4 linked regions of the Homo sapiens genome follow. The protein of the gene in region 2 interacts with the protein of the main gene of each other region in a pairwise test. Each region holds a gene or a part of one and is shown on either strand. Other genes may lie near its edges. The genes, in order: WDR83, DNAJB6, SPATA22 and CRYBA2.

What was found.
Region 1: the proteins of DNAJB6 (region 2) and WDR83 interact in binary tests that used the Homo sapiens proteins (3 or more experiments, as listed by UniProt).
Region 3: the proteins of DNAJB6 (region 2) and SPATA22 interact in binary tests that used the Homo sapiens proteins (3 or more experiments, as listed by UniProt).
Region 4: the proteins of DNAJB6 (region 2) and CRYBA2 interact in binary tests that used the Homo sapiens proteins (3 or more experiments, as listed by UniProt).

Annotation. Positions count from the first base shown.
Region 1 is NC_000019.10:12,669,802-12,676,349, reverse strand, and holds the end of WDR83 (WD repeat domain-containing protein 83), read right to left. Parts: coding exon 6,457-6,548; intron 6,374-6,456; coding exon 6,253-6,373; intron 6,171-6,252; coding exon 6,065-6,170; intron 5,788-6,064; coding exon 5,739-5,787; intron 5,656-5,738; coding exon 5,529-5,655; intron 3,881-5,528; exon of another isoform or gene 3,770-3,880; intron 3,504-3,769; coding exon 3,436-3,503; intron 3,343-3,435; coding exon 3,234-3,342; intron 3,149-3,233; coding exon 3,034-3,148; intron 828-3,033; coding exon 678-827; 3' UTR 559-677; downstream 1-558. Other genes in the region: DHPS (deoxyhypusine synthase), read left to right, coding at 208-333, 417-512. UniProt on the Homo sapiens protein: Molecular scaffold protein for various multimeric protein complexes. Acts as a module in the assembly of a multicomponent scaffold for the ERK pathway, linking ERK responses to specific agonists.
Region 2 is NC_000007.14:157,360,985-157,368,006, forward strand, and holds part of DNAJB6 (dnaJ homolog subfamily B member 6), read left to right. Parts: intron 1-2,176; coding exon 2,177-2,286; intron 2,287-5,517; coding exon 5,518-5,577; intron 5,578-6,388; coding exon 6,389-6,499; intron 6,500-7,022. UniProt on the Homo sapiens protein: Has a stimulatory effect on the ATPase activity of HSP70 in a dose-dependent and time-dependent manner and hence acts as a co-chaperone of HSP70. Plays an indispensable role in the organization of KRT8/KRT18 filaments.
Region 3 is NC_000017.11:3,468,798-3,476,122, forward strand, and holds the start of SPATA22 (spermatogenesis-associated protein 22), read right to left. Parts: upstream 3,023-7,325; 5' UTR 2,885-3,022; exon of another isoform or gene 2,634-2,884; intron 602-2,633; 5' UTR 529-601; coding exon 486-528; intron 1-485. UniProt on the Homo sapiens protein: Meiosis-specific protein required for homologous recombination in meiosis I.
Region 4 is NC_000002.12:218,990,417-218,998,064, forward strand, and holds the start of CRYBA2 (beta-crystallin A2), read right to left. Parts: upstream 3,007-7,648; 5' UTR 2,761-3,006; coding exon 2,600-2,760; intron 1,828-2,599; coding exon 1,686-1,827; intron 579-1,685; coding exon 436-578; intron 1-435. UniProt on the Homo sapiens protein: Crystallins are the dominant structural components of the vertebrate eye lens.

The sequences.
Region 1 (6,548 bases), on a different chromosome or scaffold from region 2:
GTTGGGTCTGGGGAAACACAGCCATCGTTGCCCAGCAGCTCTAGTGACCCCAGACATTGACATGGGCCCTGTCTGGGAGCGAATGTCTGTGAAGGGCTTCCTTCATCTGGGACACACCTCTCAGCCTGTTTGGCTACGGTGTCCTCCCTCTGTGTCTGTCTCCTGTGACTGGCTGACTGGGCCCACCGTGCCCCCGCCTCCCCACAGCGGAACGGGGCCGACTACGCTGTTTACATCAACACAGCCCAGGAGTTTGATGGCTCTGACTCAGGTGCCCGACCAGACGAGGCTGTCTCCTGGGGCAAGATCCGGGTGGATGCACAGCCCGTCAAGGTAAGCGCTGGCTGGGTGGGGCATAGGGTCTCTGGGACGATGAGTGTGGGTCCCATGGCTTACCCAGGTTCCCCCCTACCCAGGTCTATGCTGACGCCTCCCTGGTCTTCCCCCTGCTTGTGGCTGAAACCTTTGCCCAGAAGATGGATGCCTTCATGCATGAGAAGAACGAGGACTGAGCGGCTGCGGTCCCAGGAAGGTCTTACCCCCTCTTCTATTTATTAATTTGCAGACCCAGCCCCTCCCCTACTTTTTGGTCAGCTACGTCTCTAGAATAAGATGGTATCTGAAGTCCTTCCATGTCTGTGTCTCGGTCCTTGGTCCTGTTGGTGGGTCCCCTGGCTTCAGCCTGCTCCATCCTCTGCCTCATAGGCCTCCTCTCGCCAGCACTGGACGCTGCCTCCCATGGCGGTCAGCAGGCAGGGCTCTGTTGGGTGGTAGGCCAGCGACTGCACCACACCGGAACCCACAGGCAGGGCCAGAGCCAGCGCACCCTGTGGAGCGAGGGGTAGGGAGTGGTTATCTGTGGCTGGGCTGTACCCTGGTTTCTGAGGTCCCTGGGCACCCCCCATCTCAGTCCTGCCTGAAGCCCTCAGTCACCTCTCCCCGACCTTCAGCCACCTGCCTCTAATTGCCTCCTAGACACTGCAAAATTAATCTACCTCAGACTGAGCCCCTCAGTAGCTCTGTCCTACCAGGTGTTCAGGCCGCAAGTCTTGGGAGCCTCTTATTGATTTTTTATTTTTTAAAATAGCAGAGATGGGGTCTTACCATGTTGCCCAGGCTGGTCTCGAACTCCTGGCCTCAAGTGATCCTCCTGCCTTGGCCTCCCAAAGTGCTAGGACTACAGGTGTGAGCCACCATGCCTGGCTTTGGGAGTCTTTTTCTTTTTCTGTTTTTTTTTGAGATGGAGTCTTGCTCTGTCGCCAGGCTGGAGTGCAGTGGCGCCATCTGGGCTCACTGCAACCTCCGACTCCCTAGTTCAAGCGATTCTCCTGCCTCAGCCTCCCGAGTAGGTGGGATTACAGGCACGCGCTACCATGCCCAGCTAATTTTTGTATTTTTAGTACAGATGGGGTTTCACCATGTTGGCCAGGATGATCTCTATCTCCTGACCTCGTGATCCACCCCCCTCGGCCTCCCAAAGTGCTGGGATTACAGGTGTGAACCACCATGCCTGGCCGGGAGTCTTTTTCTTGTACCACATGTTCCTCTATCAGTTATTCCTCTTGGCTCTGCTTCTAGACCATGTCCAGAGACTGCTGATTTTCTGCCACTACCATGTTTGGAGCATGCCTTGCTCACAGCTTGCCTGTTCCCTGCCACCAGCTGGGCTCCATCCTGTCCATTTGGCAGCCCCAATGATCCCCACTTCCCCTGGTCCCAACACAATGTAAACAGTTCCTCAAGCAAGCCATGCTTCCTCTTTCCACCTTGAAAATGTCCCTTGATGTGCCTGCCCTCCAAGGCAACTTCTGTTCTACTGGGCCCATAAGAAATAGGTGGAACATTCTTGCTACCTTAGTTCCTAAAGCAAGAGCTTGTCCGCCAAGTCTTCAGGGCCCCCCCGGTTCCCTCCATCCTCTTATGGGCCTTAGTTCCCCTGGCCAAGCCCAGCGCTGATGTCTCCTTTGCCGAGATTCCCCCGGCTCTGACCCCACTACACCAGGATGGTCTGTTTCTGGCCTGACTCCCCACCAGGCTGGGACATGTCAAGGACAGGGCTCAGGGCTTGAAACCATGCACAGGGATGCTAAGATGTAGCTCCAGTTTCTTGAATGACTGCAGCCCTATCTCACCCAAGGTTAGACATGGCCGTCGGCTCCCCCTTGCCCAGGGGTCAGTGCCAGTTGCTCGGCCTGGCATCTGCAGCCCAGCCTGACCCCGGATCTTGCCGCACCTGCCGCCACCCTGAAGCCTTTGTTTCCTGACTGATGCATGCGCAGGCTACACCTCTTAACATATGCTGTTCCCTTTGCCTGGAATGCCCTTCCTGCCTCATCTTCTCTCTAGCCCAAGCTGGGCACGGTGTCTCAGGCCTGTAATCCCAGCACTTTGGGAGGCCGAGGCGGGTGAATCACTTGAGGTCAGGAGTTTGAGACCAGCCTGGCCAACATGGTGAAACCCTGTCTCTACTAAAAATACAAAAATTAGCCAGGTATGGTGGTAGGGGCCTGTAATCCCAGCTACTCAGGAGGCTGAGACATGAGAATCACCTGAACCCTGGGGGGAAGAGGTTGCAGTGAGCTGAGATGGCGCCACTGCATTTGCCTGGGCAATAGTCTCAAAAAAAGAAAAAAGGGCCGGGTGTGGTGGCTTACGCCTGTAATCCTAGCACTTGGGAAGGCTGAGGTGGGTGGATCATGAGGTCAGGAGTTTAAGACCAGCCTGACCAACATAGTGAAACCCTGTCTCTACTAAAAATACAAAAATTAGCTGGGTGTGGTGGCACGCACCTATAATCCCAACTACTCAGGAGACTGAGGCAGGAGAATCGCTTGAACTTGGGAGGCGGAGTTTACAGTGAGCCAAGATTGCGCCACTGCACTCTAGCCTGGGCGACAGAGCAAGACTTGTCTCAAAAAAAAAAAAAAAAAAAAAAAAAAGATCCTAGCCTTCAGGCCCTGGAGTGACTGAGGTAAGGACAGGGCTGAGATGGGGCAGGCATCTAGGTATGAAGTAGGGCTGGGGGCACCTCACCTCCACCAGGTCCCAGAAGAACACCTTCCCGTCCTCAGAACAGCTGACCACATGTGTGTCACGCTCGCTCAGGCAGCAGTCCAGCTTGTATTCCTGGTTCTTATGGCCCTTGTACCTAAGGGTGGACAGGATCGGGGGGCTTGGTCCTCTCCAGGGGTGGGAGAGGAGGGAAGGGGATCCCCACGACCACAAGGACTCACTCGCCCAGCAGCTCCCCTGTGTCTTTGTCCAGGAGCCGCAATGTGGAGTCCAGGCTGGACACCAGGGTGCACTGCCCATCCCGGCTGAAGCAGGTGCAGGTGATGGGGCCTTGGGGGAAGGGTGGGTAGGTGAGTGAGGGTGGGGTGCCCCTGGTTGGCCCCCCATCTTCCCTGCCTGTCCCACATCCCCAGCCACACTCACTGCCCACGTAGTCTGAGAAGAGCTGCCCCATCCTTAGGTCATAGCGTCTCACGCGGCCATCCACGGAGCTGCAGGAGAGGGTAGATCCAGCGGGAACCTTGACTACACTCACATGGCTCCAGGCAGCCCTGTGCCTTCCCAGCCCAGTGGGCCTGCTCTTCCAGTGCACAGGAGTGGAATTCTGAAGCTCTGGCCTTGAGACTCAGGCCCAGGGCCAATTACGTCCTACTCCATCATTTCCAAGACCCACACCCCCTTTCCAAGCCCTTGGAGTCCTTCTGATTCCCCCTTTTCTTCCTTTTGTTTGAGACAGAGTTTTGCTCTTGTTGCTCAGGCTGGAGTGCAATGGCATGATCTTGGCTCACCGGAACCTCTGCCTCCCGGGTTCAAGAGATTCTCCTTCCTCAGCCTCCCGAGTAGATGGGAATACAGGCATGCACCACCACGCCCTGCTAATTTTGTATTTTTAGTAGAGACGGGGTTTCTCCATGTTGGTCAGGCTGGTCTCGAACTCCCAACCTCAGGTGATCCGCCCACCTCAGCCTCCCAAAGTGCTGGGATTACAGGTGTGAGCCACCCCACCTGGCCCAATTCCCCCTTTTCCTGCATTCTCCAGCTCCTCCTCCTCAGTACTCAGTCCCACCACTTTCCCCACTACCCAGCACCAGCATCTAGACTGTTCTGGTCTCCCTGCACCCCCCACAGCCACCAGAGGGAGCACTTTTCAAAGTACAGTTGACCCATGAACAACACGGTTTGAACTGAACGCGTCCACTTATATGTGGATTTTCTTCTGCCTCTATCAGCTGTGAGACACCAAGATCAATCCCTCCTCTTCCTCCTCCTCTGCTTTCTCAACACGAAGATCTTTATGACGATCTCTTCACTTCCACTTAATGAATAGAAAATATATTTTTTCCACCAGGCGCGGTGGCTCACGCCTGTGATTCCAGCTCTTTGGGAGGCCAGGGCAGGTGGATCACGAGGTCAAGAGATGGAGACCCTCCTGGCCAACATGGCGAAACCCCGTCTCTACTAAAAATACAAAAATTAGCTGGGCGTGGTGGCACGCGACTGTAGTCCCAGCTACTAGGGAGGCTGAGGCAGGAGAATCGCCTGAACCTAGAAGTTAGAGGTTGCAGTGAGCCGAGATCACGTCACTGCACTCCAGCCTGGCAACAGAGCGAGACTGCGTCTCAAAAAAAACAAAAATTCTTCCTTATGATTATTTTTATGTATTTATTTATTTAATTTATTTACTTATTTTGAGACGGAGTCTTGCTCTATCGCCCAGGAGTGTAGTGGTGCGATGTCGGCTCACAGCAAGCTCTGCCTCCTGGGTTCACTCCATTCTCCTGCCTCAGCCTCCTGAGTAGCTGGGACTACAGGCGCCTGCCACTATGCCCGGCTAATTTTTTGTATTTTTAGTAGAGACGGGGTTTCACCGTGTTAGCCAGAATGATCTCGATCTCCTGACCTCATGATCCGCCTGCCTCTGCCTCCCAAAGTGCTGGGATTACAGGCATGAGCCACAGCGCCCGGCCTATTTTTATTTATTTTTAGAAATCATTTTATCTTTTTTTTTTTGAGATGGAGTCTCACTTTGTCGCCCAGGCTGGAGTGCAGTGGCACAATCTCGGCTCACTGCAACCTCCAACTCCCGGGTTCAGGCGATTCTCCTGCCTCCGCCTCCCGAGTGGCTGGGATTACAGGCTCCCGTCACCACACCTGGCTAATTTTTGCATTTTTAGTAGAGACGGGGTTTCACCATGTTGGCCAGGCTGATCTCAACCTCCTGACCTCAAGTGATCTGCCCACCTTGGCCTCCCAAAGTGCTGGGATTACAGGTGTGAGCCACCGTGCCCGGCCAGATTATTATTATTTTGTAGACAGTCTGTCTTTCACCCAGCATGGAGTGCAATGGTGCCTCGAACTCTTGGACTCAAGTGATCCTTCCACTTCAGCCTCCCAAGTAGCTGGGATTACAGCTGTGTGCCACTGTGCCCAGCTGAGAGTAGGTTTTAATCTGAGCATGGGGGCAGCTATGATTCCCCGTAGCACCTGGGGTGAGACCAGGTCCTGGCTCCACTCACCCTGCCAGGATCTCGTGGTCTGACACCTTCACACTGGACACGCCATCTCTGGCCTCATCCAGCGTCTGCACTGGCTCAGGCCTCCGTGAGCGGCAATCCCAACAGCGGATACTGGAATCAATAGAGCCTGTGAGGCCAGCATGATGGTGAGGTCAGGTTTGGAGGGGGAGGGCAGCACCCTGGGCCCCCGTGCTTAGGCCCCAGACTCACCGGACAGGATAACTGTGGCCTCTTCATTAAACTGCACCGTGTTCACCTTCTGAGAAAGTTATTGCCACTCAGAGGAGGCTGGACTTTGGAGGACTGGGATAAAGGCAGGGTTCCCAGTGTCGGTTAAAGCAAGGGCGAAGGGGAGGTGAAAGGTTTTGGGGGAACAGCAAGGACAGGGGTTGGTGACTGCCTAGCCTGGCATGCGGAGTGGGGGATCGTCATCTGGGGAAGGGATCCTTACGGTGTAATGGGGGTGGCCGTGTCACCACCTATGCGCTAATACGGGTCCCCTCCACTCAAATGAGGGTCTCCAGGCTTTCACTCACCCCTGCGTGGCCCCGGAATTTGCGCACGACCTGCCCTGATGCCACATCCCACAGAACCACCGCCTTGTCCCCGCCGCCGGAGCAGAGACTACTGTTGTCAAAGGAGCTGGAGTAAAGGAGGAGGAGGATCAGCATCGACCTCGGATCCCAGCCTCAGCGCTCCCATCCCAGCCTGGTCCCCGGCTCACCCGGCCGCATCCAGCACCTCGTAGCCGTGGCCGCTGTACGTCCGCAGCAGCGTCCCCCGAAGCGGGTTCCACAGCTTCAGCGTCTTGTCACTGCCGCACGTCAGGCAGTAATTGCCATCCACTGGGGAACACCAGGCGGGGGTTACTGGGCCGTCGATCTCAGGAGGCGGGAGGAGGACCCGGAATGAAGACGAAGGCGCTCACCATTAAATCGTACGGCTCGCACTGCCCCCTGCCCGCAGTCCAGCGTCTTCAACCGTTTCTGCGGCAGCTCTGGAGGCCGCGGCTTTGGCTCA
Region 2 (7,022 bases):
GCATACACAGTTGAATCTTGTCCTGCATTCTCATCCATTGCCAAGTTTTCATATGAACACTAGATGATAGGTAGTACTGCACACTAATCATTTTTTCTCTTTTGTCTTTTGTATGGTCTGTTATTTTTGACTGAGGATTTCTGGCACATTTAGGGTTATTTGATCCACTGCTACACGTTTTTTTTTTTTTTTGAGACGGTGTCTCGCTATGTCACCCAGGCTGGAGTTCAATGGCGTGATCTCGGCTCACTGCAACCTCTGCCTCCCAGGTTCAGGCGATTCTCCTGCCTTAGCCTCCCGAGTAGGTGGAACTGCAGGCGCCTGCCATGATGCCCAGCTAATTTTTATATTTTTAATAGAGACGGGGTTTCACCATGTTGGCCAGGATGGTCTCGATCTCTTGACCTCGTGATCTGCCTGCCTCAGCCTCCCAAAGTGCTGAGATTACAGGCATGAGCCACTGCGCCCGGCTGCTACATGTTTGTTTAGGTCCACAGTGACATAAATTACTGTTAAGTATTCTGGACTCCAGCTTTAATCAGATTTTAGTATGGTTAAGCCAAGGTTTTGTTGAACATGTTGTAAGTTAAATTGAGCCACAACAGCTTTACAGTAATAACTTGCCTAGTGTTAAAAGCACTGTCAGATTAGTATACTAGTCTGAAATTTTGAGGGGTATGCTGCTTCTCTTTTTTAACGTTACCCTCCTTTTGAATATATGCTGCTTAGGTTTTGCTAATTAGACTAGAGGATTTTTTTGTATTCATTCATTCATTCATTCATTCATTCATGCATTCATGTTGAGCCGGAGGCTCGCTCTGTCACCTAGCCTGGAGTTCAGTGGCACGATGTTGGCTCACTGCAACCTCTTTCTCCTGGGTTCAAGCAATTCTTCTGTCTCAGCCTCCTGAGTAGCTGGGATTACAGGTGCGTGCCTTCATGTCCGGCTTTTTGTATTTTTAGTAGAGATGGGGTTTTGCCATGTTGGCCAGGTTGGTCTCGAACTCCTGACCTCAGGTGATCCACCCACCTCGGCCTGCCAGAGTGCTGGGATTACAGGTGTGAGCCGCTGCACCCGGCCTTTTTTTTTGTATTTAAATAGCGTGCAATTATTTGGTCAGTTGGAACTCTGCAACAGAATATGACCTTGGTCATAGAATCTTTGTAGAAGTCAGTGTTTTAACTCTGTTTAGATCTTGAATCTGGCACAGAGGGTGTTTGAAAGATTCTGAGATCCTGGCCTGTTGGGTGGCAGGTGATTCACCTTTGGCACACAGATGAGCTAGGTAGTGGGGCTGGCTGAGGAAGTAGGGTCCTGGGAATCAGAACATGGAAGGATATGAATGGTGATGTTGGATCTTGCTGCTCAGTGACCCAGGCCTTTTTTTCCCTTTTTAAAAATTTTTTGAGACGGAGTTTCGCTCTTGTTGCCCAGGCTGGAGTGCAATGGTGCGATCTCGGCTCACCACAACCTCTGCCTCCCAGGTTCCAGTGATTCTCCTGCCGCAGCCTCCTGAGTAGCTGGGATTACAGTCAAGTACCACAATGCCCGGCTAATTTTGTATTTTTAGTAGCGTTGGGGTTTCTCCATGTTGGCCAGGCTGGTCTCGAACTTCTGACCTCAGGTGATCTGCCCACCTCCCAAAGTGCTGGGATTACAGGCATGAGCCACCACGCCTGGCCTTTCTCCTTTACTTCACATACTTGCTCAGTCTTGTCACTGTCAGTCCACGTTGTGGACACTGTGATCTTTATTTTTCTATCTCTAGAGGTTCGTTTGTATTATGCTATCAGGATTTTTATTCTAAAACTTACTTTAATGAGTATTTTTACAATTTTAATTTTGAGACAGTCTTGTTCTGTCGCCCAGGCTGGACTGCAGTGGTGTGATCATAGCTCACTGTAGCCTTGAACTCCTGGCCTCAAGCAGTTGTCACGCCTCAGCCTCTGGAGTAGCTGGGTCTATCTGTGGCTGCACGCCACTACGCCTGGCTATCTGGATTTTAGAACTTTGTGTATTTCATTGTAGAGGAAAGGGAGGTTTTACAGTTAAAACCAGTATTCATCTCACCAGTTGGCAGCTCTGAAGCCATTCTCGTGGTTAATGATGTTAGTTTCAAAAGCATAGTTGATTTCTGGATTTAGAATGTGATCTATATCCTTTATTCTTTCCAAGATATCGGAAACTGGCACTGAAGTGGCATCCAGATAAAAATCCTGAGAATAAAGAAGAAGCAGAGAGAAAATTCAAGCAAGTAGCGGAGGCATATGAAGTGCTGTCGGATGGTGAGTGACAGCGAGCTGCTGAAGGACCCTGAGCGGGCATGCCGGAATGCGGAGTGGGTGTTGGGATCCTCCTCAGGGTAGCACAGTATGGACTCAAGTGACTTGTTTTTGATGCCTACTGGATTTTGGGCCCTTCTAAGAGATTTTTACTTTTCTCGTGAAGATTTGAATTGATTTAGGTAACCACGAGTGCTGGGGAGCTCCAGGGCTTCTAGTAGTTTCTCCTAGGATGGCTGTTTTAAAAGCGGGACTAGACATCCTGGGTTTGAGGAACCTGGGAGAGAGGAGGTTGCGGGACTCAGGTCACTGTGCATGTGGCGTGCTTGCCCCCGTTGTGTGTGATCATTCTGACCTTGCTCACCCCCACTGGCTTAAACAATACCATTCCAGTGGAGTCAGCTTTACTGCTTGAGAGGATGTCATTAGTTCCCAAAAAGAGGGGATGGAACATACAGCTAAAATTTAGATTTCCAGTTTCAGGCCTGTTTTCCCCTCCTAGGTCTGGAGCAGAGGTGTTCTATGTTACTGGAAGTCAGATCCATTGGCCTAGTTCACAAATGGGTGAGGGGTCAGAGGTCAGCTGTCGCCTAGATGCAGTCAGGGTTCCATGGGGGAAGTAAAGGCTGTGCATGGGGCCTGGGGTGGGGGAACAGTGACAGAACTGGAAAGCCACACAGTGCCCCTGTCTGCTGCAGTGCTGGGTGGCCTGTTGTGAGCAAAGGCCGAGGCTTTTCCAAGGTTAGGGATGGACTAACTGAACCCTGGAAGTGGGCACTTGGTTAAGTGTATCTGCATGTGGTCAGGTAATTGGCCCTTATTTACAACAAAAAAAATTTTTTTTTTTTTTAAAGAACCCAATTTGAGGCAGAGGTTGCAGTGAGCCGAGATTGCGCCACTGCACTCCAGCCTGGGCGACAGTGCGAGACTGTCTCCAAAAAACAAAACAAAACCAAACCAATCAGAAGGAACCCAGTGTAAGCTTGCCACCTTCAACAGCTACCAGCACACCACCAGCCTTGCTTTCTCTGGTGACACTGTGGCCCACCCCCTTTGTTTTAGAGGAAATTCCAAACATTTTACTTCAAAAAATATGAAAAGACATAAAAACACCGATATTTGAAGTCTTCTTGAAATGTGGCATTTAAGGTCTTGAACTGTTGAGCTTATTCATTGGAAAGTTTATTTTTTTTAAAGAGAGAGGATCTTGCTATGTTTCCTAGGGAGGCCTTGAACTCCTGGGTTGAGGTGATCGTCCTCTCTCCTCAAGTTCCAAGCACCATTGCGCCAGGCTTGTTCCCTTAGATTTGTGCGCTGGGAGTGACAGAGGAGGGCACAGGCCTCAGTGTTACCATCTTGGTCTTCGGTCCTTGTTGTTTGTGTGCTAATTCAGTATTGCCAGATTCAGGATTTTAGGGACTAGTAACATTAGGAAAAGTGAGGGCCAAAATGAAGCTTCATATTTGATAGAGCAGCTTTAAACTACCACACTGAAAAGTCGCTTGGTTCTTTTGGGAGGTGTATGAGGTGTGTTTTTCATGTCCTTTTAGGCAGCCTTCAGTGCCAGCTGGAGTTGTCTTCAAAACATGGTCATTGTTCTTGCCATGGCACTGGCTACCTGAAACTGCTTGCAAGTGGTTTGTTTCTAAGCTCGTTTTCCCATTTTGTGGAATGTGAGATTTTCTTCTACTTTTTAAAAATTGAGAAGGGGTCTCACTCTGTTGCCCAGGCTGGAATGTAGTGGCATGATCACAGTTCGCTGCAGTCTTGACCTCCCAGGCTCAAGCGATTCTCCCATCTCGGCTTCCTGAGTAACTGGGACCACGGGTGGGTGCCACTGTGCCCAGCTAACTTTTTTGTATTGTGTTTAAAGGTGGGATTTTGCCGTGTTGCCCAGGCTGGTCTTGAACTCCTGGGCTTAAGTGATCCACCTTCCTTGCCCACGCAAAGTGTTGGGATTATAGGCGTTAGCCACTGCATCCAGCCTATGAGATTTTTTGAGGAACGCAGATGGTGTCATGTCAGAAGTACCAGTGCTTCTAATGTCATTGTTTTTGTTCTGGGATATAAGTAGCATTTGGAATGTAAGTGTGAAGACTGTCAGTGGAGAGGGGCACACTAGCCCCAGGCCTTGCATCCGGGTGGTCCACTTCGAGGGTGAATGAGCCTGTAGGGTGTTAGGTTGGCGCCTTTCTGGCACATCTGCTTTCTCCCACTTGCCTAGGCCCTGGCATGTTTGTTTTCGTGCTGCAGATATGGTCCTCTAATTGGGTTTTTGTAGTAAGATGGTGCACTTCTGTGGTTGCAATAATCTTGTACTTGGTCGTGTGATTTTAATGTAGCATGTCTGGGCTCTGTGCAGTAGAGTGAAAGAAACGATCTAATGGAATAAAGAAAAAAATTTTTTTTTGCTTTTGAGATGGAGTTTTGCTCGTTGCCCAGGCTTGAGTGCAATGGTGCAATCTGGGCTCACTGCAACTTCTGCCTCCTGGGTTCAAGCGATTCTCCTGCTTCAGTCCCCTGAGTAGCTGGGATCACAGGCATGCGCCACCATGCCTGGCTAATTTTGTATTTTTAGTAGAGACTGGGTTTCTCCGTGTTGGCCAGGCTGCTCTCGAACTCCTGACCTCAGGTGATCGGCCCTTCTCGGCCTCTGAAAGTGCTGGGATTACAGGTATGAGCTACCTCGCGTGGCTAAGTCCCCCCCGCGCCTACTCTTGTTGCCCAGGCTGGAGTGCAATGGCACGATCTTGGCTCACCACAAACTCCGCCTCCCGGGTTCCAGCTATTCTCTTGCCTCAGCCTCCTGAGTAGCTGGGATTACAAGTGCCTGCCACCACGCCTGGCTAATTATTGTATTTTTACAAGAGATGAGGTTTCACCATATTGGCCAGGCTGGTCTCAAACTCCTGACCTCAGGTGATCTGCCCACCTTGGCCTCCCAAAGTGGTGGGATTACAGGTGTGAGCCACCATGCCTGGCCGTAAATACTTAAATATTTCTAATAACTTGTAAAAATTCAACATACTGAATTTTTTTTGAATTGTTTTTCAGGAGAGAGGTACAGAAAGTTTTCCCTGTTGCTTTGTTTTGTTTTAAAGAAAAGGTGGCCATACTCCTTGAAATTCAGTTGTAAAACATCGAAAACTGATTTACAACTGGGGAAATACCTTATCTATTGAATTAAGGGTTTAAAAGGAACTTGGCCTTACCGACTTTTCTTTCAATTTTTAGCTAAGAAACGGGACATCTATGACAAATATGGCAAAGAAGGATTAAATGGTGGAGGAGGAGGTAAGTACGTGAGTTTTTTCTTTGAAGACAAAAGGTCTTGGCAAGTAAGTTGAGTTTGTAAATCACGAGTCTCTTGGTCAGAGTCGATTTTGTATCAGTAAATAGAGATGCAACGTAGAAAGCGAACTAAATTGGGGAGAGGACAGAGAAATTGATGGCATTTAAAAGTCTTTTACGAGACTAGAAGTATATGTTGATGTATTTTTTATAGATAGAAACAATTTGTAACCATACTGCAATATATTGTGAACATATACCCTTAGATCAGCACTTGACGTTATGTCAAAATATCCTAAGGGTTTAAAGAGCAGATTTTCCTGAAAAGCTAAAATAATGACTTTGAAGGGCGTGGACTTTGTCCCCAAAAGTTCCCACGGTCACTGGGCTGTGACCAGCCTCCCCAGGGGTGTTGGGAAATTATTGCTCCAAACCCACTGGGGCCACGCGGCAGCTTCTGTGGCTCCAGGAGGCCAGTCGTCGAAGTGGATGCAGATACTCTTGGTCTTCATAAACCTTCATAACAAATCATAAAAATGGTGTGTAATGTTACATGTTATATGCCGATCACGGATTTAGAGATGGTGAAAAGTAGTGTCGAAGGGGCCACTGCTGCACTCATATGCCATCAGCGCTGGGCACACTCACTCTCTGTCAGTACAGGGCTCATGTTTTGAATTATAGAGAACTTCAGGTTTATGAAATATTTTTGTTTTTATTAGTTCATGATTTGTATAATGTTTTGTCAACAAAGAATTCTTTGCCTACAAAGCACCAAAATTCATAAACTAAAAGCTGTGTTGTATTTGTGCAGGTGGAAGTCATTTTGACAGTCCATTTGAATTTGGCTTCACATTCCGTAACCCAGATGATGTCTTCAGGGAATTTTTTGGTGGAAGGGACCCATTTTCATTTGACTTCTTTGGTAAGTTAATCACGTGGGTTGACTTGGTGTGTGTCCATGACCCAAATGAGGGCTTACTTAGTATGGCCTTTCTGTTGAATTAACATTGTATTTTAGGCTGGGCGCGGTGGCTCATGCCTGTAATCCCAGCACTTTGGGAGCCTGAGGCGGGCAGATCACCTGAGGTTGGGAGTTCAAGACCAGCCTGACCAACATGGAGAAGCCACGTCTCTATTAAAATACAAAATTAGCCGGGCATGGTGGCGCATGCCTGTAATCCCAGCTACTTGGGAGGCTGAGGCAGGAGAATCACTTGAACCCGGGAGGCAGAGGTTGCGGTGAACTGAGATCATGCCATTGCATTGTTGTCTGGGCAACAAGAGTGAAACTCCTGTCTCAAAAAAAAAAAAGTTAACATTGTATTTTGTCACGAAACTTTGTGTTTAAAGCAGCATTGGACTAGCCTGAACAACATGGTGAAACCCTGTCTCAACAACAACAAAAAAAATACTAAAAATTAGCTGAGTGTGGTGGCGTGTGCCTG
Region 3 (7,325 bases), on a different chromosome or scaffold from region 2:
TCTTGAATACAGTTAATCCACCATAAATAATAGTTACTATTATCTTCATTATGCATCATCATTCCCCTGGTTCTCATCATCCTTGCCATCTGTCTTTATACTAATAAATTGGGAAAGCAAAAATGATAGGAGAAGCTATTAGAAAGACAGAAGTGCTTCCGGAAATATTTTTAACAAGTAAGTCACAAATACAAACAAAAATAGATCTATTTCTTTGTTTTCAGTTTTAAAGCATAGAATAACTCAAGCACATCGAATTTGTAGAAAGAATATCAAAATAAATCTAAGAAACTTTGATCTTACTCCCACCTCTACCACTAAATGTTTTGTCTTGAGTAAGTTATTTTACTTCCTTGGACCTAAAAAGTAAAGAGGCTAGATTAACTGTTCAATCTATTTTAAATTTATTTCCAATGTTATATCTATAAACTATACAAGCTTTATATGCTATACAGAAAATTTAAAAATAAAAAGTTGTTCAATACCTGCTGTACTTCGAGCTGAATTTTCATTTAGGCTTCGCTTCATTTCCTTCAATATCAAAATCTATAATTTTCTATTCAGCATTCCAAATTTATAATATGACATTGTCCCACTAGACCTGCAAAGAAAGAAACTTATAACTCGTATTGTCTCAACTATAAAACCCAATCCTCAGCCCAGTGATTACTGAAATTATGGTTGTAAACTACTTTCAAACCTGATCACGTAAACACTTTAGGGAGTCCTTTGCTTTCTAAGAGTTTACACCATAATCCACTTTTCCAACCCTGTTCAAATTAAGTTATGACTAGGGCAACTGTAACCTTGCTTCGTAAACATATGTGCATTTTTTCACACAGTATATGTAATTTATTTCAGAATCCCGCACCCACAAAGAGAATTCTGAACCACACCTACAAAGAGGAAAATGGACCACAGCGTTGGCAAACGTACATGCTTCCAAGGCCAAGGAGGAAACACAGTATTTAGCCACCGGGAACTTCCTCCATGCCCCACTTTAAGGCATTGTGCAGGACATCTGCCTTTGCATCAGTTTGAAATGCCTGGATTATATAATATCAAAGACTAAGTCTTCCTGAGGTCAGGAGTTCAAGACCAGCCTGGCCAACATGGCAAAAGCCCATCTCTACTAAAAATACAAAATTAGCCAGGAGTGGTGGCGGGCGCCTGTAATCCCAGCTACTCGGGAGGCCGAGGCAGGAGAATCGCTTGAGCCCGAGAGGCCGAGGTTGCAGTGAGCTGAGATCGTGCCACTGCACTCCAGCCTGGGCAACAAGACCCAGACTCCATCTCAAAAAAAAAAAAAAAAAAAAAAGACTAAGTCCTCCCTTCATATCTAGAATAATTGTAATGACAAGTTTCCACTCCATTTCCACAACTTCAACAAGTGAAACAAGTTTTTCCTTAGTTTTCTTCTTTTACAATAGAATTTCTCTTGTAATTTTGCACGTTTAGCCCCTTAACACATTTCATCCCCAATCTAATACAACGAACACTTGCCCACTGCAAGAAGAGGCAAGATACAAACCCAAACCAGGTAACTTCTGTTCCAAATTCACAACCCAATGAGACAGACAGACCGACACATACACAACTAAGCAATAATGCAAGTCAGGCCGAGGTGTTAACTTTCAAATATCGTTTGTAAAAATAAAACTTGGGAAACAGGCCGGGTGCAGTGGCTCACGCCTGTAATCCCAGCACTTTGGGAGGCCGAGACGGGCGGATCACGAGATCAGGAGATCAAGACCATCCTGGCTAACAGAGGGAAACCCCGTCTCTACTAAAAAATACAAAAAAATTAGCCGGGCGTGGTGGCAGGCACCTGTGGTCCCAGCTACTCGTGAGGCTGAGGCAGGAGAATGGCATGAACTCGGGAGGCGGAGGTTGCAGTGAGCGGAGATCGTGCCGCTGCACTCCAGCCTGGGCGACAGAGCGAGACTCCGTCTCAAAAAAAAAAGAAAAAAAAACAACTTGGGAAACACGAGGTCAGGTGCTGCCTCTGTTTTGTTTCCACATCTTAGGCTTGAAGCTGGGTAGAAGAGATGGACCCTTTAGAAAATATTCCTGGTGGCCAGGTGCAGTGGCTCATGCCTGTGATCCCAGCACTTCGGGAGGCCAAGGCAAGTGGGTCACCTGAGGTCGGGAGTTCAAGACCAGCCTGACCAACAACGTGAAACCCCGTCTCTACTAAAAATACAAAAATTAGCCGGGCATGGTGGTGCGTGCCTGTAATCCCAGCTACCCTGGAGGCTGAGACAGGAGAATCACTTGAACCCGGGAGGCGGAGGTTGCAGTGAGCCGAGATCACGCCACTGCACTCCAGCCTGGGCGACAGAGCGAGACTCTAGGGAAAAAATGGAGAGAGGGAGGAAGGGAGGGAGGGAAGGGAAGGAAGGAAGGAAGGGAAAGGAAAGGAAAGGAAAATATTCTTGGCGCCATCCTAGGAGCCACAACAGGGATTCTGCCACTTTCTCCACCGGCGCAACTCACATCCTATATTTAGAGGGGCTTACGAGGGCTATTATGTTTCTCAGGATCAAACAAACAGAATAAACAACAACAAAATTTTTAAGTGTAACATTCCACCCGCGGGACCATTGATCCTGAGGGCGGGGACCCTCATTTACCCCCAATCCCAGCTCCCAAATGGACCTAAGTGGCGTTAGTAATGGGGTTGGTGGCATTGGTGTGCAAAAAGTGTGCTCAATCTGCACGCACACACACACACACCACCCACAAAAACCACGGCCTCAAATGGCGGCCTGTTTTGGCTCCTGACCGCGGTGGGAGAGAAGAGGCTCCAGTCCGAGTTGAGACGCTCTTCCAAAGGCCTCTCCTGACCCGCCCACGGAGTGGGGGCAGTTTGGTATCAACGCACAGTCTTTCCCTTCTAGGCCCTCCTGCCAACACGACACACAACTTTCGCCCTCAGTTTCCCTCGCCTCCGTCAACCGTCGTCCAGGCGGCCCCGTCAGCAACCGCCGCCCTTCCCGCCCGCGAAGAAAGCGCGGGAATCAGGCTGTTCGCAGGCGCCGTGGACCGCGCAGGCGCAGTGGCCGCCACCTCGGCGCGATGGCATCTTCGCTGCCTGCCTGGCCGCCCTTGGCCGGGCGCGATGACGTTAACGCTCTTCCTTGGCGTTCTCACACTGTGGACCCAGGGATGGCTCCAGCTCCTTAGAGTTTTGCCCAGAGAGGAAAGGAGACTGTCCTGTGACTGGAGAGACAGAGGCAGATCTCCTGCCCAACCGGCCTCAGCCCCACCATCGTCTAAAAAGTGTGCCCCACTTCCCCTCACCCCCTGGCCCTTAGGGTCCAGACATCCGTTTGTTAGATGCTGGTGGCCACCCAGAGTGTGCCCAGAGATTGACTCGAAGGCCACCCGAGGTGTCTGGCTCAATTTCTGGGTCGGATCAGGGTCAGGGAATCTGAGTCCCCGGGAGGCTGGGGACAGAGCTGAAGCCCAGGTTCAGATGGCGGCCATGGAAGGCGGAGAGCCGTCAGCGAGGCAGCGCCGGGGCTGCGGGAGCTTGCGGGAGGGAAGCGCCCGTGAGCCGCAGAGACGCTCTGCAGGGGAAGCCGCGTGGTGTGCGACCCTGGGCGTTGAGCTCCAGGCTTCCTGGCAAAGAGGACTGTGGATTCCTGGCCCTGTGACCTTGGGCAAGTTACTTACTGAACACCCTCTGGACCTACCAGTAAAAGAACAATAACAACAATCGCCCTAAAAATACTAGAAGATGAAATAGACAATCCTGGCACACAGTAAATGCCCAGTAACTGTTAGCCCTTATTTAATTTGAGTAACAGTAGCTGCCATTTATCCGGAACTTACTATGGGCCAGGTAGTGGATTCTAGAGCTGTCTGAGTTCAAAGCCCATGTTTTGTTGTTACCGTATCTTCTAACCATTTGAAGACTGGGATAGGGAAGGGCTTAGAGATGAAAGGAAGATTGTTAGTAAAGGCCTAGGCCTATAAGACCACAGACATTTTAGTAGTTGCTTTAAAACTATCTCAAGTAAAGAAGAGTGTTAGAAAATAATATTAGATGTAGACTGAGACCAGATAATAGCAGACCTTGAATGCCAGAGTAAGGAACAGCTTTCAAGGAATAGGGCCATCTTTTATTTTGGGAAGAAGAAGACTTGAACAATAAAAATAAAACTTGTTATTTATCATGGTTCCAGAGAGGAGTTACCCAAAACATGAATAGAAGCTTCAGGGAAGCAGATTTTGACTTGATATCTACATACGGATGTGCATACATTTACAACACACACCCACCCACCCCAAAAATAGATTTTTCATTAAAAAAAAAAAAAAAAAACCACCTTAAGCCGATTACTTCTGTAGGGACTGCAGACATGAGCAATATAGAATATTTGCTAGCAGTTTATAAACTTAATCTGTTTTATACTTGTCTTTTTCTGCTTATTTATTTCCACCTGGAAAGTTGGTCAGGATGGATCACAGGGAAGGAGAAAACTAAAGTAGTAAAAGTAGTTTGATTACATAACTACTGAACATCACATTATGTATGAGACATCTTATGTATAATATTTAACAAAAAACCCTTCTTATCCCCCAGTCATACCATTTGGGAAACAACCCACCTTAAATTTGTCTCCTACAAAATTTCTGGCAGGGATCTACTGGACAGCCATGACTGTGAAGTAAAACTCTGCTCTCCTTTTGTTTTGTTTTGTTTTGTTTTTGAGACGGAGTTTCGCTCTTGTTCCCCAGGTTGGAGTGCAATGGCACAATCTCAGCTCACTGCAACCTCCGCCTTCTAGGTTCAAGTGATTCTCCTGCCTCAGCCTCCTGAGTAACTAGGATTACAGGCACCCGCCACCACGCCCAGGTAATTTTGTATTTTTAGTAGAGACGGGGTTTCACCATGTTGGCCAGGATGGTCTCGAACTCCTGACCTTAGGTGATCCGCCCACCTCGGCCTCCCAAAGTGCTGGGATTACAAGCATGAGACCACACCTGGCATCCTTTTGTTTTAAACTACATTATTTTATTAATACATCAGGCAACTCTATCCCACAAAACATTTGTAATGCTGGAAGTTATGCTTACTCTTTTAAGTACTTCAGAATATTATATATTCAACTTAATAATGAGATAGTGACAATTCGAAAGGGTTTCACTTCGTATACTATCAGTTCGCTGAGAACTAATAAAAAAGTGTGGTTTTTTGGGTCATCCCAAAAATCAAGTACACTTTGGGAAACAGGGAGTTAAAAATCTTTCGGAAGTTAACTTGGTATAAGAGTATGAAAAGCCTCTGTTGCTCTACTTCTGAGGAAATGCTCTCCTTTTTCCTAATAAAGCTTTCCACAGAAGACAAACTCTGTACACAAAAAACAAGGTAAGTATGGGAAATAATTGCTGCAATTCATTAACTCTCAAAAAAGTTATTCATTTTGACATGTAAGAGAAACTTTATTTATGAATGTGAAATGTGCTTCAAAGTGCTGATCTGTTAAAATTCCATAAAACAAGCTTCAAAATGCAAGTCATTTGTGCCAGCTACGAGTAAATAACTGAAGCAGCATTTCCAGAGAGACTAGGGCAAAGGACAGAACAAACTACAAATCAGCAGAAAAGAAACCAAGCATAGTAGAGTGTTAATAATTCACCATGGTTACTGCTCTTAAAACCAAAGCAACTAAACAACTGTCATCTGTTTACTTTTACGTGTGTTTTCATCATCTCTACACCGTCTGAAGTGTTCAGTGTACATGGATGTGGACAGACAGTCAAAGCCTACAGGAGCTTTTTTTTTCTATTAGAACAGTCATTTTAATGCATAGATTTGATGTGGTTATTTTGCTTTCTCTATCTCTGCATTATAAGCTCTTAAAGGAAGAACATTCAGTGGGTTTATTAAATATTAGGAAGCATTCATATTTTATTTTTCCACCATGTATTTGGTTTGTATGCATGTTTGTTTCCTGAGCACACTGTAATGGCTGTTTATGTGAATTCTGAAAGAGCAAAACTAGAACTGTGAAGAAGACCAAAAATAACAGAGAGGCACCCTATTGTCCTGTGAAAAACACTAGACTTGGGATGAGAAACATGGGTCTCAGGCCTAGGTTCTCCTACATCCCTGCAGAACCTTAACTGAGTTACTTAACCTCTCTTTCGTTTACCCCTGCAGTGGGGATGTCAACACCTAACCCACCCTATCGTATAAAATTAATGTATGAATAAACTGAGTGAAAGGACATTATAAATTAAACTCTGCAATTGTAATAAATTACTCTTATTGTACCCTCTATCAAACAACCTGGCGTTACTAGTACATGGTATTCCCAGTACTTGAACATATGTGACTTTCTGGGTGACTGAGCATGAAATCAAATCAGATTTGGCTCAGAGTCATTTCTCCAAAGGGATGTAATCATCTTAGTATTCTGGAAAATTTCCCCTAATAAGACCCCTTTTTGAGTAACACAGTCCAGTGGAGAGTCCCCGCTGACAGTGAATAAGGCTGTGTCTATGTAAGTTCACATGATGTGGTTAGCACATGCAGTGTGTCCCAAGACATTTTCAGGCATCACAAAAACTTGAAAAGTACTAACAGTTGTCTTTCCTTTGGTATTTAGGCAAAAAATGAGGAAGATTCATAAGTAAGTTAACACAGAATTACCAAAAACCTCATGAGAAAGAAATGAAGGGATGTTTCAGGGTAGCTTTTCGAGTCCCAAGTGATCATTGATTTGGCCCTTCTGTTTCTGATTGTGAAAAAGCATTCTGAAAGAATGGGCGCCGGTTCAAGAGGAGGTCTCTGAGGGTCAGCCTTTGGCTGTTTATAGAGGTGAGATTCAAATGCCCTCAGATCATGAAAAGTGCTTGAACTCATTTCAGAGAAGAAATGTTTTGAAATGCCCGTGGAAATACTGAGTGGGCCACTTTTTTATTTTGTGAAATTAGAAACGTATAAACTATTTTTATTATTACAGATAATTGTGAAAGCCTCACTGGATGACATCCTAGCTGAGGAAAAGAATGGAATTTTTGTATTAGTATGAAATGCTAATTTATTACTGTATTTAGATCTACTGACCATCTGAGGGAGTTAGAAGTTAAAGTAAACAGCTGTATCTCTAGTTGATCTTTGCATATTTTAATCCAAATATGGCAAAGGGCAGGGCTAAAGAAGGGAGTGTCCATAAACGGGGCTCAGAACTTGTAACAGAAAATTAAAATATACTCCACTCAAGGGAATTCTGTACTTTGCCCTTTGGGTAAAGTCTCATTTACATTTCTAAACCTTTCTTAAGAAAATCGAATTTCCTTTGATCTCTCTT
Region 4 (7,648 bases), on a different chromosome or scaffold from region 2:
CAGAGGCAGGGAGTAAGCTCTGCCCCCACCCCCACCCTATGTTCTCCACCAGCAGCCCCCCTTTTGTAGCTCCCAACCCCCAGTTCCAAAATCATTGCTTCAACTTTCCCTCCGTGGCTCTCTCCCTCCCCTGCCCACTGCTTCCAGTCTTTCTGTCACCGTTCTCATCCAGTCTTCTATACCCACCCCTTATTTCCTCCACCCCCTCATGTTCTCCAGCCCTTCATCTGTGCCCATATTGCCCGCTGCCCCCCATTCTCCTAGGACCTCCTCATTTCCTCCCTTCCAGTCTGACTCCATCATCTCCCTCCCCTTGCCTCCAAGTCCCCAATATCTCTCTTAGCGCCCTCCCCACATCACTTTTCTCCACCCTCTTCCTTGGTCCCCATTGCCTCCCTGCTCTTCTGTCTCCCTGGTTCCAGTTCCAGGACTCACGCTCCGGAGCTGACTTTGAGGGAACCCACATCCTTGCTGGCCCAGCCCATGGAGGGCAGGGATGGGTAGTCATCAACGAGGTCAAACTTGCAGCCTTGGAAGTTGTCCCCCTCAAACAGTGTCACACGGCTGTCATTGTGGTTCTGAGGCACAGCAAGATCAGGACAGAAAGATCAGGGCTTCCAAAGGGTTAACGGATACATCCTCTGCCTCACTTCCCCCACCCACTGCACCTCACAAGCTGTGAAGCTGTCTAGGACCCACAGGCACTCCCAGAGCTCACCCCATCAGCTCCCTGGCAGTCTGGGAAATGGATCGCTCAGAGGTTCCCCCGAACCTGGCCCCTCCCATGACTTTGAGATAAGGAGGTGATTGGGGGATAGGATTTCCAGAGACCCTTTCAGGTCAGGACTAGAGAGCATCTTGTGACATGGGCCCATTTTGCAGGAGCAAAATCAGAGGTCCTTAGAGAAATCTGTCCCATTCACCAAGACAGTTCCCTGAGGTCCTCATTGACTAACTACCCAAGCCCTTGCCCAGCCCCTTCGCACAGCCTCTCACAGATTAGTGCCCAGCTAAGAGGTACTGGGTGGCAGAATCAGAATAGACATGTCAGGGCATCAATACTGATTGCATCTTGGCTCCGGCCTTCCCACTGCAGGGTTCTTCAGCCTCTTGGAACAGAAGAATTGGGCTGGCCTGGGCTGGGTCCTCTGCTCTCCACTTCCCAGCCCTACTAGTAACCAGGTCGGCACAAATGGAAAATGAGGTCCTCTCTTTCGGTGTATTTGATTCATTAACAACACCCTCACACACACAATAACACACACACAAACACACTGAGACTGACTCTTTTCAGTGACCCTGGGCAAGCCACTTTGTCCCTTTGAGCCCCATTTCCACACCTGTGTATGGGGCTAACAGCAGTCAACCCGACCTCACATGGCTGTGTGACGACAGAGGCACTCACTCACACGTGTGGACGATGGAATGTGGGGGAACCCTGGGCACTCAGGACTGGGATGGCCTCAGCGCTGTCCGTGGTGATGATTTCTGGGCTCCGGGCCTACGCCCACAATCCCAACTTTCTTGGAGACACCCTTCTGATTCTGAGAAATAATGCTACTACCACCCATCTCGGAGTTTGTTTACACACACCCCATGCAGGGCTTGAACAGCCTTTCTAGGTGCCATGGTGAGGCCAGGGCCTGGAGCTAGGAGGCAGGGGAGGAGAAGTGGGCTGTGCTCACCGCGCAGAGCACTGGCCGGAAGGACAGCAGCTGGTTGCTGTTGTGGCTGCTGCTGCCACTCCAGGCGCTCCAGCGAGGATAGTCTCCCTTCTCCAGAATGAACTGCTGTCCCTGGAAGTCGGGGTACTCAAAGGCCACCCAACTGGAAAAGGAGAAGAGCTGGGAGGTATCTGCCCCAGCCGCACCCTCTCTGCCCTCCCCCTTGCCGGCCATGATTGAAAAGACTGAGAAGCACAATGTTTTTCTCCAACCCCAAACCCTTCCCCTGACACCCCCATTGTATGGCAATCCAGCCCCTCTCGGAACTAAAGGTCCAAAACCTGCTGCTTTCTGGGGTTTGAGGCGCCCAGGCTTCCCCCTCAAGGACCCCAGGTTGGGAAAGAGTTTTCCTGGTTATGAAGATCTCCCGACCCAGTGCTCCTGCCTCAAGGGTTTAGGCCTTTGCATGGGGACACATTGGAGGACCCCTCCCGAATATCACAGCAGAAACTGGGACCTCAGCTGGGGCAGGGGTAGGGGGCGGCAGGGTGGGAAAAGCTGGGCTCTGGGAGACCAGGGTGGGGCCAGGGAAAGGGATTGGGTTTCTTTTGTTAAGCCAAGTGCAGAGCCTTCTAATTTTGCACAGAGAAAAACTCTGGGAAGGGTGTAAGTACACTAGAAACCCCTTCACGGTGGGGTCCCATAGGGACCCTCAAGGGGTCGCTTCTCGCCTGTGTCTCTTTAGCTAGCACAAAAATACACAGTTTCCCATGATTTATCTTGCGATGGGTGGGGAATTTTGGGGAGGCTATGGGGTTTCCCATGTTGGCAGGTCTCTCCAGGGCTCACAGGACAGGGGGCTGAGGCTCTGAGCCTAGGCCGGTGGAACCCAGCGCCCCTCAACCCAGCCCAGCCGCGGCCAGGCAATCACTCACACGCCGTTTTCCACCTTGACCGAGCGCACCCTGGGCAGGCCTCCGCGCTCGCAGACGTTCGCACAGTCGCTTAGCAGCCGACAGCGACGGCCCTGGAAGTCCTCCTCGTCCCAGAGCGTGAGGCTGGCGGGCGCCGGGCCCGGCGCGGGGGCGCTGCTCATGCCGCTGCGGACAGGAAGGGTGGCACCACGCGCTCAGCGTCTCAAGAGCCCCGTTTCGAGCCACACACAGCCTGCCCAACCTGGGTAGCGGATGAAGAACCCGGGGGCTGGACCCGGCCTAGCTCTGGACCCGGCTGCCAGGGGCTCGCAGTCTTCCCGCGCTCCCCTCCCTTCCCCACCCCAGCAGAGGGCATTCACCGGGTGGGTGAGCGCGGCACGCGAGGGAAATGGACCGGCTGCGAGGCTGCGCGCGGCCGGGCGGGCCGAGCTTTATACCTGGGCCTTGTCCCCCTGTCCGCACCCTTTCCCTCGGGGGTGGGGTCGCTGAGTCAGCAGGCAGGCTGCGGTCGGCTCTGGTCTCCGCTGGGGAGCCGAGGCCTCTCCCGCAGCCGCCGCTGTGGCCCCAGCCCGCGGGAAAGACAACAGAAAGTGCTGAGGCGCGCACCCCGCGCCCGCCGCAGCCCAGGCTGACTCCGCGCTTTCTTTCTTTCCAGCCTGAGCCAGGCAGGGCACGCCAGGCCTCGGGGCAGAACGCGCCCTCCCTGTCCCGGCCCTCGGGGACGAAGGGACCTGGCCTCCCCTGGGCCTCGGGCTAAGACCGCGCTGCTGACTCGCTGAGCGGAAGTTCTTCCCAGAGTCTAATCGCCAGCCTTCCTCGGCCCTAGTCCAGGCCTCTCTTTTGGGCGATGCTAAGGCGGAGGTAGAGAGGGCTCTGCCCAAAGGATTCGCTTCATGTGCTCAGTCCTCTTTTTCCTGGGGGATCGGTCCATCGCGGCCCTTTTCCTCCCAAGCGTGCGTTCCCAGATCCTGCGCCGCGCCCCCGGGGTGTCCTCGGGCCCGGGAAGGAGAGGAGGCGGTGGTCAGGACTCGCCACGCGGCGGCGCCGGGCGCTGGAAACGACCGCCCGAGGGCCGCGCGGTTTACTCAGTGTTTAGGCATAATAGCCACCTAGGGAGTGGCTCGCCGCGGGAGGTAGGAAGAATGTTGGGCTTTAGCTCGGCTCAACCGGTGCCGCTGCGGGTCTCCCACAAAGCTCCAGGCTCTAAGGGTTCCAGCCTCGACGTCTGCCTGAGAGTTAGCAGCTGAGGATGAAGCGCTTAGTTCAGGCCGAGTTCTCTGCTCAGGCTTTCGGGTGCGTGAACTCCATCAATTCTAACACTGACCTGCTAGGAAGATACTGTTATTGTCCTGCATTTCGCAGATGAAGAAGTGGAGGCCCAGAGGGCTTTGGAATGTGGTGCAGGGGTCACAGCTAAGAAATCTCCCAGGGCCGGGCGCAGTGGTTCACACCTGTGATCCCAGCACTTTGGGAGGCCCAGGTGGGAGGATCTCTTGAACCCAGGAATTTGAGACCAGCCTGGGCGACATGGTGAAACCCCGTCTCTGCAAAAACAAACAAAAATTAGCCGGGCGTGTTGGCATGCGCCTGTAGTCCCAGCTACCTGGGAGCCTGAGATGGGAGAATTGCTTGAGCCCAGGAGGTGGAGGTTGCAGTGAGCCGAAATCAAGCCACTGCACTCCAGTCTGGGCGACAGAGTGAGCTGGGAAAAGGCGGCGGTGGGGGTGGGGGTGGGGGGTGTAGAGAAAAGGGGAGGTAGAGGGGGAAGAGGAAAAGGTTGGGAGCTCCAAAAAGGTTGGGAGTCCCAAGGGGTAGCTCCAGGTAGGAAATTTCCTCACCACTTGCAGTGGAATTTTCTAACCACAGCAAATGAGACACAAAGGCTTCTTGCAAAATTGTAGGTTTTCCTTAATGGTGGTGGGTGCGGGTGGGGATATTCCAGCAGAGGTGAGAGGGGCGAGTGAGAAGGGAGCTAATATTTTGTTGCTTCCATGAGTCACATGCTTCCCTTATGGGTCCTCACAACAGTCCAGCGAGTTAGGTTTGTGTGTACGGTTATGGAAGCGGAGGGTCAAAGAGGTGCAGGGCCTTGTCCAAACTCACATGGCTAGCCAGTTTCAGAGCAAGAATCGAGCTCAGACCTTTGGAAGCCAAAGCCTGTGCTCCGCCGCTGTCCATTGAAGCTCCCGTGCCAAAAAGTGCTCACAGGCCAGCTGCGGACACCCCAGCTCCCAGAAGCCTTGCCACACCAGCCTGCCTTCTAAGCCTTCTTCCCAGTGTTCCATACTCAGCCCATCTCAGAGCCTTTGCATTTGTTGTTCCAGCTACCTGGAGTGTCTTGGTCACAAGATCGTGGCATGGCTGGCTCCTGTGTCACCTCCTCAGTGATGCTGTTCTAGGCACCCTTCCATCCATCACATCAGCCTTTTTCTTTCTAGCATTTATCACGCTGTAAAGTTATCTTTTTCATCTTGTGTTTATGGGTGTAGCAGCATCTCCCTTACCAGAGTGTAAGCTCCATTTGAAGGGGCAGGGACTGTGTTTTGTTCTCAGTTGTTATCCTCAAACCTAGCACAGTGCTGGATGCATAGTAGGCACTCAATAAAACTTCTTGAACGAGTGAACGAACAAGGTGGTCAGGCGTGGGCCAAATGTCCACGGGAAAAGGGGTGTAGAGAAAATTCTCCAATGGAAGTTGGCGGGGGGGTCTTGGCAGCTTGCTCTCCCACCTCTGAAGTTCTGGGTTGCTGAGAGCAGGAGCTGGGGGCAGACAGAGGATCCCTTGGGCTCTCTTTTCCCTGGTGAGGAGTTACTGTTGGAGCTCGCAGTGTGTGTGAAGATGGGTGCCAACAGTACAGGGCCCTAGAACTGGGCATGGCGGTAGAGTCCGAGTGAGGAGGATATGGGTCAGAGATGGGACAACCTCAGGCAGGTTTGACTGGGGGTGAGGTCAGAACAGTGTCCTGATTCCCTACCTAGCGGGGGTTTGAACAAACACAAACCTCAAGGAGGGAATACAAACCACAGAGTGGGGCACGAGCCAGTTCTGGACCCTTGGTGTCCCAGTCTTTGCCTTCAGTGTCACCAGCCCGGGCAGGGGTGAGGGGTGAAGAATCAGATCTCGCCTTCCCTCCTTCCCCCATCTCTATCCGACAATTCTGGATTCGGCCACCAGAGGGCAGGAGCAGGCCGCGCTGGCCCGAAAGCTGGCGCGGAGGGCGGGGTGGAAGGGGAGGTCCAGGTCGGGAGGGGCCGCGGGCGCGGGTGGCTAGTGCGTCAGGCTGTGCGTCTGCGCTGTCCCTGACGCGGACGCCAAGTGTTGGTCAGAGGGTGTGGGGGTGTCTGTCGGAGACTGGACACTGTGCACCGAGCGGGGCTGGGGGCTGGACGTACTCTCGAGGGTCGGGCTCCACGCGTGGGTCCCACGGCGGCATTCTGCAGGAGTGGTGCGTCGCGCCTTTTCCAGGGTTAGGGGAGGAGGAAAAGCGGGGAGGCCGTCCAGCCGAGGTCCAGGTTAGAATTAGGAGTCCCGCTTGGAGTTGGGGAGTGGACCCCGTGTGTGAGAAGGGCCCCTACTCCTCCTCCAGTGTGAAACTCTGGTCTTGGCGGCAGCCAGCCTCTCCCCTTCTCTACCTTGTCCCTCCCCGTGGAAATGGTATGGAGGTACCCCCCCCACCCCCTCACCCATGACTTCTAGTTCTAGTAACTGCGACCAGCTCTCTCAGAAATGGGCATACCCACCACCGCCACCCATAGTCACTGGCCCAGAAGACCTCTAAACATCTCAGGGTTCCCCTAACGCCCTCAGGCCCCTCCTGACTTTAGGCCTCACAGTTATCGCCAAAGAGAAGAACCACTGAGGGGAAGGGGCTTCGAGGCAGCCCTGCCTACTGTGCCAGGAGAGGACTCTGGGATCGATAACCCCCCTTGGGTACCACGGACCCCCTACTGGTCTCCTCCTTTCCCTACCAGGCTGGTCCAGCTCTGCTCCTCTCCCCAGCTGCCATGCCGCCCACCCCCCCCACCCCTAGCAGCTGTTCCTGTTTGTTTTCCCAGATCAGTTGCGCCCAGAGCTTCCTGAAGGATGGGTGCCCAGGTGGCTTTGTTTGCCAGCTCAGCACAGTCACCCCTACCCCCTCCACATCCACAGCCTGGCCTTGGGGCATGGAGCGGGGAATTAGGTAGACAAAAACCAGAAACCCCAGTGGACACTTCACAGAGCCCTCAAAATCTCACAGAGATCTTATCACCCTCAGGGCCCCCACCCTGACCTCATTCAGTTCTCCATCTCACACTGGGACCTTTGAGTCCCACAAGGAAATCCTCAGGACCTCACCCCATCCCTAGCCACCATCTCCTGCCCTCTGATTTCACCGAAACCCCCATCCCATACAGACCCATAAGATCCCACAGAGAATCCTTTGAGCCTAAGTCCCCTCCATGAGGCCCTCACATCCCACCCGGACTCCCATCCCATGTGGGGACACATAGATCCCGCAAGGAAGCCCTCAAACCCACTCCTAAGCTCCTGCCCAATCTCCGTCCTAGGCAAAGGCCCTGAGAATCCCAAAGAAGTGGCACCTCTCTCACCTAGAGCCCCACCCCAGGAACAGCCTGACTGCTCAGTACTGCTGGGCAGCGGAGAGGGGCTGGTGGCCAATGTCCCCTCCTCGAGCGGGTCGCCTCCCAGCCCTCCCCCCTCGTTTTACTGGGAAATCATCCAGGGGTTGGGTACTGAAGATGCAAATTCAGGGAAGGGTGCCTTCCCTCACCCTGCCACCATCACCAGCCCCTCCTTTCCACCCCTGCTTCTCTGGCCCCCGCCCCCACCCCCAGTCTGGAGCCCAGAATCAGCAGATGAGCACCTTCCCTGGGGCTGTGCAGGACTGGTCTCCTGGGAGACAGAGATAACGGGGTACAGAGACCAGCCCAGTTTGGGCCAGTTAGGAGTCCCACCCACACAGACCCATTGTTCTATCCCACTAGAAACAGAGCCCCTCTCCTCTGCCCCTCAGTGGGGTTAGAGAACTGGCCACCATCCAGGAGCTG